2 separate regions of the Homo sapiens genome follow, and region 2 is linked to region 1. Evidence: fine-mapped expression QTL. Tissue or cell type: whole blood. Region 1 holds a variant in brackets; the other region holds the start of a gene. All regions are shown on one strand. Distances are from middle to middle.

Region 1 (2,762 bases):
TCCCGGGCTCAAGTGATTCTCCCGCCTTAGCCTCCCAGGTAGCTGGGACTACAGGTGCATGTAAAAAATCTTTTTGATAAAATTCTTTTATATTGATTACATGTTGAAAAAATAGTATTTTGGATATATTGACTAAATATATTATTAAATCTACTTTACCTGTTTCTTTTTTAAGTGTGGCTACTAGAAAGTTTAGAATCCTATCTGTGGCTCACATTCTATTTCTATTGGCCAGCACTACTCTACAATGTAGCCTCACATTTTACCCAGCTAATCACATTTCCTGCTGCTCTATTCCAGTCTCTCTGTACCAGCTTCACTGGTGCGCCTAGAACTCTGAGGTCTTTGCACTTGCTGTTCTTTCTGTCTGGAACACTTCAGCTCCAGATGTCCCTGTGACTTGCTCCCCGCCTTCTTGGGACGTTATTCAAACATTGTGACACCTCTGATTGACTTTCACACATATGTATATATATATGCATATATATATACACACACATATGTATATGTATATACACACACACACATATATATATATTTACTGAAGCATAGTGAGGTCATAGGGAAGTGGAAAAGGGAAGGGGTGAAAGTCAGTTGGAGGTGTCACAACTGTGGGAGACCCTCTGAGAAACTAGGTAGAGCACATCTCAGAACTGTCTTGCTCAGGAGCAAGGAAGCTGGGGTATATCCATCACCTGCTTTCTCGAATTATTTGAGAATCACTCCTAGGGACAGTCATTCCATAACGTTTCCATAGAAAAACATTGAAGCTTGAGGTGAAATTCCATTGGCATAAATGAGAACTACCCACAAAAGCTACAGGTGACCTGGGGTAGAGCTAACAGTCTCTGCTCTACTCCTTTGCCCCCAACACTCCCCATCCTCTGAGACCAACCGAACTGTGTCCTCCAAAATTCACATGTTGAAATCCTAACTCCCAATGTGACTGTACTTGGAGACAAGATCTTTAAGGAGATCATTAAGGTTAAATGAAGTCCTAAGGTTGGAGCCCTGATCCAGTAGGATTCATGTCCTTATAAGAAGATACACCAGAACACTCGCTCTGTCCACCTGCACAGAGAAAGGCCACGTGAGCACACAGCAAGAAGGCAGTCGTCTGCAAGCCAGGAAGAGAGAAACAGAATTTGCTGGTACCTTCATCTTGTGCTTCCAGTCTCCAGAACAGTGAGAGAATACATTTCTGTTGCTTAAGCCACTGCTGTTTACGGTATTTTTTATGGCAGCTCTAGCAGACTAATCCGCTCTCTGTGTTTATTTATTTACCTTCTGAGGTTTACCACCATCTCACATAGTATTTATTGTACTAGTTTATTTCATTTGTTTGTTTTCTTCATCCACTATTGTATAGAGTCTGTGAGGACAGATATTTTTGTCTCTTTTGTCGTCTGCTATTTCACCAGTGCATAGAAGAATGCCTGGAGTGTATTTGTTGAATGAACAAATGAATTCATGCCTGTAGCTTCCATTGTGGTCAGTATCTTATTGAT[A/G]TTATGAAATATTAAGGACCACCTACATAATTTGTGGGGGCCCGGTGCAAAATAAAAATGTGGGAGTTTCTTGATCAAAAACTTCAAGTGCTGACAACAAAGTGTTAAATCACACATGGGACATTTCTAGCATAAGGCCCTCTGTGACTGTGCAGGTCACAAGCCCATGAAGTTGGCCATGTATGTGATCCCCAGGTATCTCTGGCTTGGGCCACTCCTTTGAATTTTAGTCCTACACATGCAGCTGCCAGTCTCTTTTGCCTGGATATCTGAAGGCATCTCTAGCTGATGCTCCAAATGGAGTTCCTGTTTTTGGCTCTCACCCAGTGTCTCTTCCTTAGCTGGGCAGCCACCACCTACCCAGTCAGGCTGTCCAGAGTTCTATACACCATCATTATAACTTCCTCATCCACATGTTTGGTTCTGTCCATTTAATTCCTAAATATCTCTTGAGGATATATATTTTCCCAGCTCTACTAAAACCACCTGAGTTCAACTTATCCTAATTTCTCATCTGAACCATTCCTGATTTCCCCCCAAATCTTGTGTACCCCTTCACCATTTACACAATAGCCACAGCCAACTCTCTTAAATGCAAACATGATCATCTCACTCTCCTGCTTGGGCACCTCCGATGGCTTCCCACCACTATTTTTTTTTGTTTGTTTGTTTGAGATGGAGTCTCACTCTGTCGTCAGGCTGGAATGCAGTGGTGCAATCTCAGCTCACTGCAACCTTCGCCTCCCGGGTTCAAGCAATTCCTGTGCCTCAGCCTCCTGAGTAGCTGGGATTACAGGTGTGTGCCCCCATGCCTGGCTAATTTTTTGTATTTTAGTACAGACAGGGTTTCACCATGTTGGCCAGGGTGGTCTCGATCTCCTGACCTTGTGATCCACCTGCCTCGGCCTCCCAAAGTGCTTGGATTACAGGCATGAGCCATCGTGCCCAGCCCCACCACTCTTATAATCGATGAAGATTCAAGCATGGCTTGCAGGGCCCTGTCTGATTAGGTCCTGCCGTCCTTCCCAGCTGCACCTGTGTTACCCATCCCCACCCATCTGTGCTTCAGCCACTCTGGTTCTTCATCATGGCCTGCTCCTCACCTTCACTTGGAAAGGCAGTTATTCTTTATACCATTTTACAGATAAGGACACTGAGCTTCAAAGTGACAAAAGGACTTACCCCAGGGCACACAACCAGTAAGAGGCAGAGTGTGTTCTGGAATCTTTATTGAATGAATGAATGCTTGCATGC
Region 2 (2,762 bases), 110 kb before region 1:
TAAGTGGTTGATGCAACTGAACCAGTTTAAAGGCTGGTAAGACGCTTGCAGAAGTCTTTAGATAGAACTTGCAAACCATTTGCAAAAGGGTTAGGAACAGGTTGCATCAATGCTATGTTTAAGTCCTGCTCTTTGTAACTCAAGGCTCTCCCATTATCTAACAGAACTTCAGAATGAGGGTTCCTTAAAATTAGCTTCAGGTCCTTATGAGCTGTAGCTGAGCAAATGAAATGCAACTGCTTTAGAAGGGAGGAGCTTCCAAGATGCTCCAGTGGTCTTTTCCTTCCCTTCCTCGTATAACGCAATCGGTGGCACAATCCCGCTAAGTAGCATGGCATGCTGGCTGCCGGTGTTCTGTTAAATTAGGGTGAGTGCTTGTCTGTGCTTCAGTTTCCCTTTCGGTTAGGCAGGACTGGTCTTCCCACTAGCTATCATCTATAGTTTACTTAACTCTATTATCATATGATGAATCCCGTAAAGCTCTTCAGAATGTTAGGGAAACAGGTCCTATTATGTCCCCCACTCTACCTTCATGGGTGGGATGGGGGGTCTGGGGGTGGGACCACTGAGAGTCAAAGAAGTTAGGAAGTAATCTGTGTCACAGCAAGCTCCCTGGAAACTCTCAGAATAGCAAACAGGTTTCCTCTCCGCCCCTGGCTCCACGCCATATTTTCGTTTTGGCTAGTTCCTTAGCTCCAGAGAAAATCTGGCTTCACCTAGAATGGTTTAGAAACACCTAAGCCCGCGATGCTTTCCGGAGGGTCTCAGGCCTTAGCTTTCTCAGTAAAAAACAGAATTTCCATGTGTCCCCTTCAAAGCGCTCCTACCGGCAGCTGGAGTAAGGTAACTCCACCGCCGACCTCCGAGGAGTTCATGTGGACTCAGCCCAGGCGCAGAGAGGAAGACTCCTGAGAGTCCTCGCGAAGGAGGGAAACACACCAGAACTAAAGTTGTGAAGGCGCAAGAGGCTACTTAGGAATAATTCCTTGTATCTCTGGGGCAGGTCTCATCCTTCTAAAGACAGGAGTGACTGGGCGTCTTCTTCCAAACAGAGGGCGCTTAAAAATGTATTTTTAAAAAACATAACAGAAAGTCCTGAAACTCACCTTTCGGTCCGCGGAAGGGCTTCCTGCAGGCCCAGGGAATCTCCTGGTTGCTGCCCCGTCTGACAGCGCCCCGGGCCCTGGAGGGAGGTGTGGGTTCCTTTTTGGTTGCCTCTGCACTCCCACCCCGAGCCAGGTCTGGCGTGTAGGGCCCCGGCGCCGGCCAAGGTCGTGGGAGCCGCCCGCCCCGCCCCGCCCCGCCCCGCTCCACCCCCGCGCGTACCTGCCGCTGCCGCCGAGGGCAGCGCCCTCTGTGTTCCCTGCCTTCCTACGGGCCGACGCCTGGCATAGTTGAGGTTTCGCTCCAACTCTGTCCTGCCCCTGATGTCACAGGCACAACTTCCTGAATCTGGCTCGCCGTTCCGCCCGCTCCAGGGGCTCGGCCCAGGCTTTCCACCCTGGGCCAGCCCACCTCGGGTGCCTCTGGCCTTGGGCGCACACGCCCCAGACGCGCCCTCCCTCCCCGTCTTCCCGCCGGTGGCTCCCCACTCCCCGCCCCCCGCCATTACGTGTCCTTGCCCCCTCAGTCCCGGAACACGCCTCCTTCAGGACACAGCGGCTGCGGAGCCAGCCCCGGTGTCTCTCACAGACGCACCAGTGTTCCAGGAATGGGACACAGAACTCCGGGCAAACCCGGCTTCAGGGAAAACAGCTGCCTAAATAGAGGGCCTTCCTGGAAGGGGTGGGAGGCGTTGGAGAGGGATACCATGCGGCAGGTTGGGTGAAGGCTCCGATGTCTTATCGGGACAAATGAGCATGACAGTCCCCTCTAGCCAACGCCGGTTGCTCCAAGGGGTGCAGGTGACATCTCAGAAGAGTCTTTGTCTCTGCTGCCTGGAGGCGCTAAGGAAAACTGCGCCCCAGGAGCTGTCTGTCACAAGCAAATGACGGAGGGGAAAGCTGACTTCAAAAAGTTCTCAGGGGTTCTTCCCTCTCATCCTCAGCTGCTCTCCATCTACTTTCTATTCAGATCTCTTGGCTCTAGTTCCGAGCACATGGGATGCTAGGAAATGAAAAGACCTGCGCCCCTTTGAATAGGGGACTCCAGACACAAAGCTCTGATGATTCAGAGCTTGTTCAGTGCCTCCAGGGATACTGTGGGTGGGAAAAGAGGGGGATGCCAGGACCTGGCTGTGGATCATTTCAGGGGCCTCCTCAGTGTCATCCTGGGAGGTCCTCCCTGACAAGGGCCTGAAATGCTGTTCCCTCGACTGTATTTGCCAGGTACACAGGTACCAGGTGCCAGGTGCTGAACCAGGACTTGCCCTCCATCGACTGTGCCTGAGTATGGGTGTCCTTTGGCTTCTCCAAGTGGGCATTAAAATGACTGCTGCAACCAACTGTCACAACTGAGATTCAAGAGATTCCTTTCTGTTTATTCAGGAGAAACCACGTGGCTCTGAGTTGAAAGGCCAAAGAGAAAACCCACCATCCAGCCTGAAACGCCAAAAATGGCTAGAAAAAGAGGAAAATAAGTTATTTATTTATTTATTTATTTATTTTTTACAGAGGAAGACTAGATTCACAAGCCGGGAGAAGCTCAAATCTGTAATGACACTTTGAGCCTGCAGTTGTCTACCTATGTACAATGTACCTATGTACCTATGTAGGTTCCTCTAAAACTCCTGGAGCCTAAGGCCAGAGTATAGAGTCTAACAG

What was found. PIP is the estimated chance that this variant, and not a neighbour inherited with it, causes the effect.
Region 2: KIAA0040 starts here. The variant in region 1 is fine-mapped to the expression of KIAA0040 in whole blood (INTERVAL, PIP 0.98).

The regions. Positions count from the first base shown.
Region 1 is chr1:175,304,334-175,307,095 of GRCh38, forward strand. All of the region lies in intron 1 of LOC105371623 (a long non-coding RNA gene), which reads left to right. Among named protein-coding and RNA genes, the nearest start is that of KIAA0040, 110 kb to the left of the region's middle. The variant A/G (reference allele first, on the strand shown) is at 1,509.
Region 2 is chr1:175,191,534-175,194,295 of GRCh38, forward strand. It overlaps KIAA0040, which reads right to left and starts at 1,243. Exons shown (of 4, transcript NM_014656.3): 1 at 1,107-1,243. RefSeq lists enhancers at 446-495, 636-685, 926-1,075, 1,796-1,905.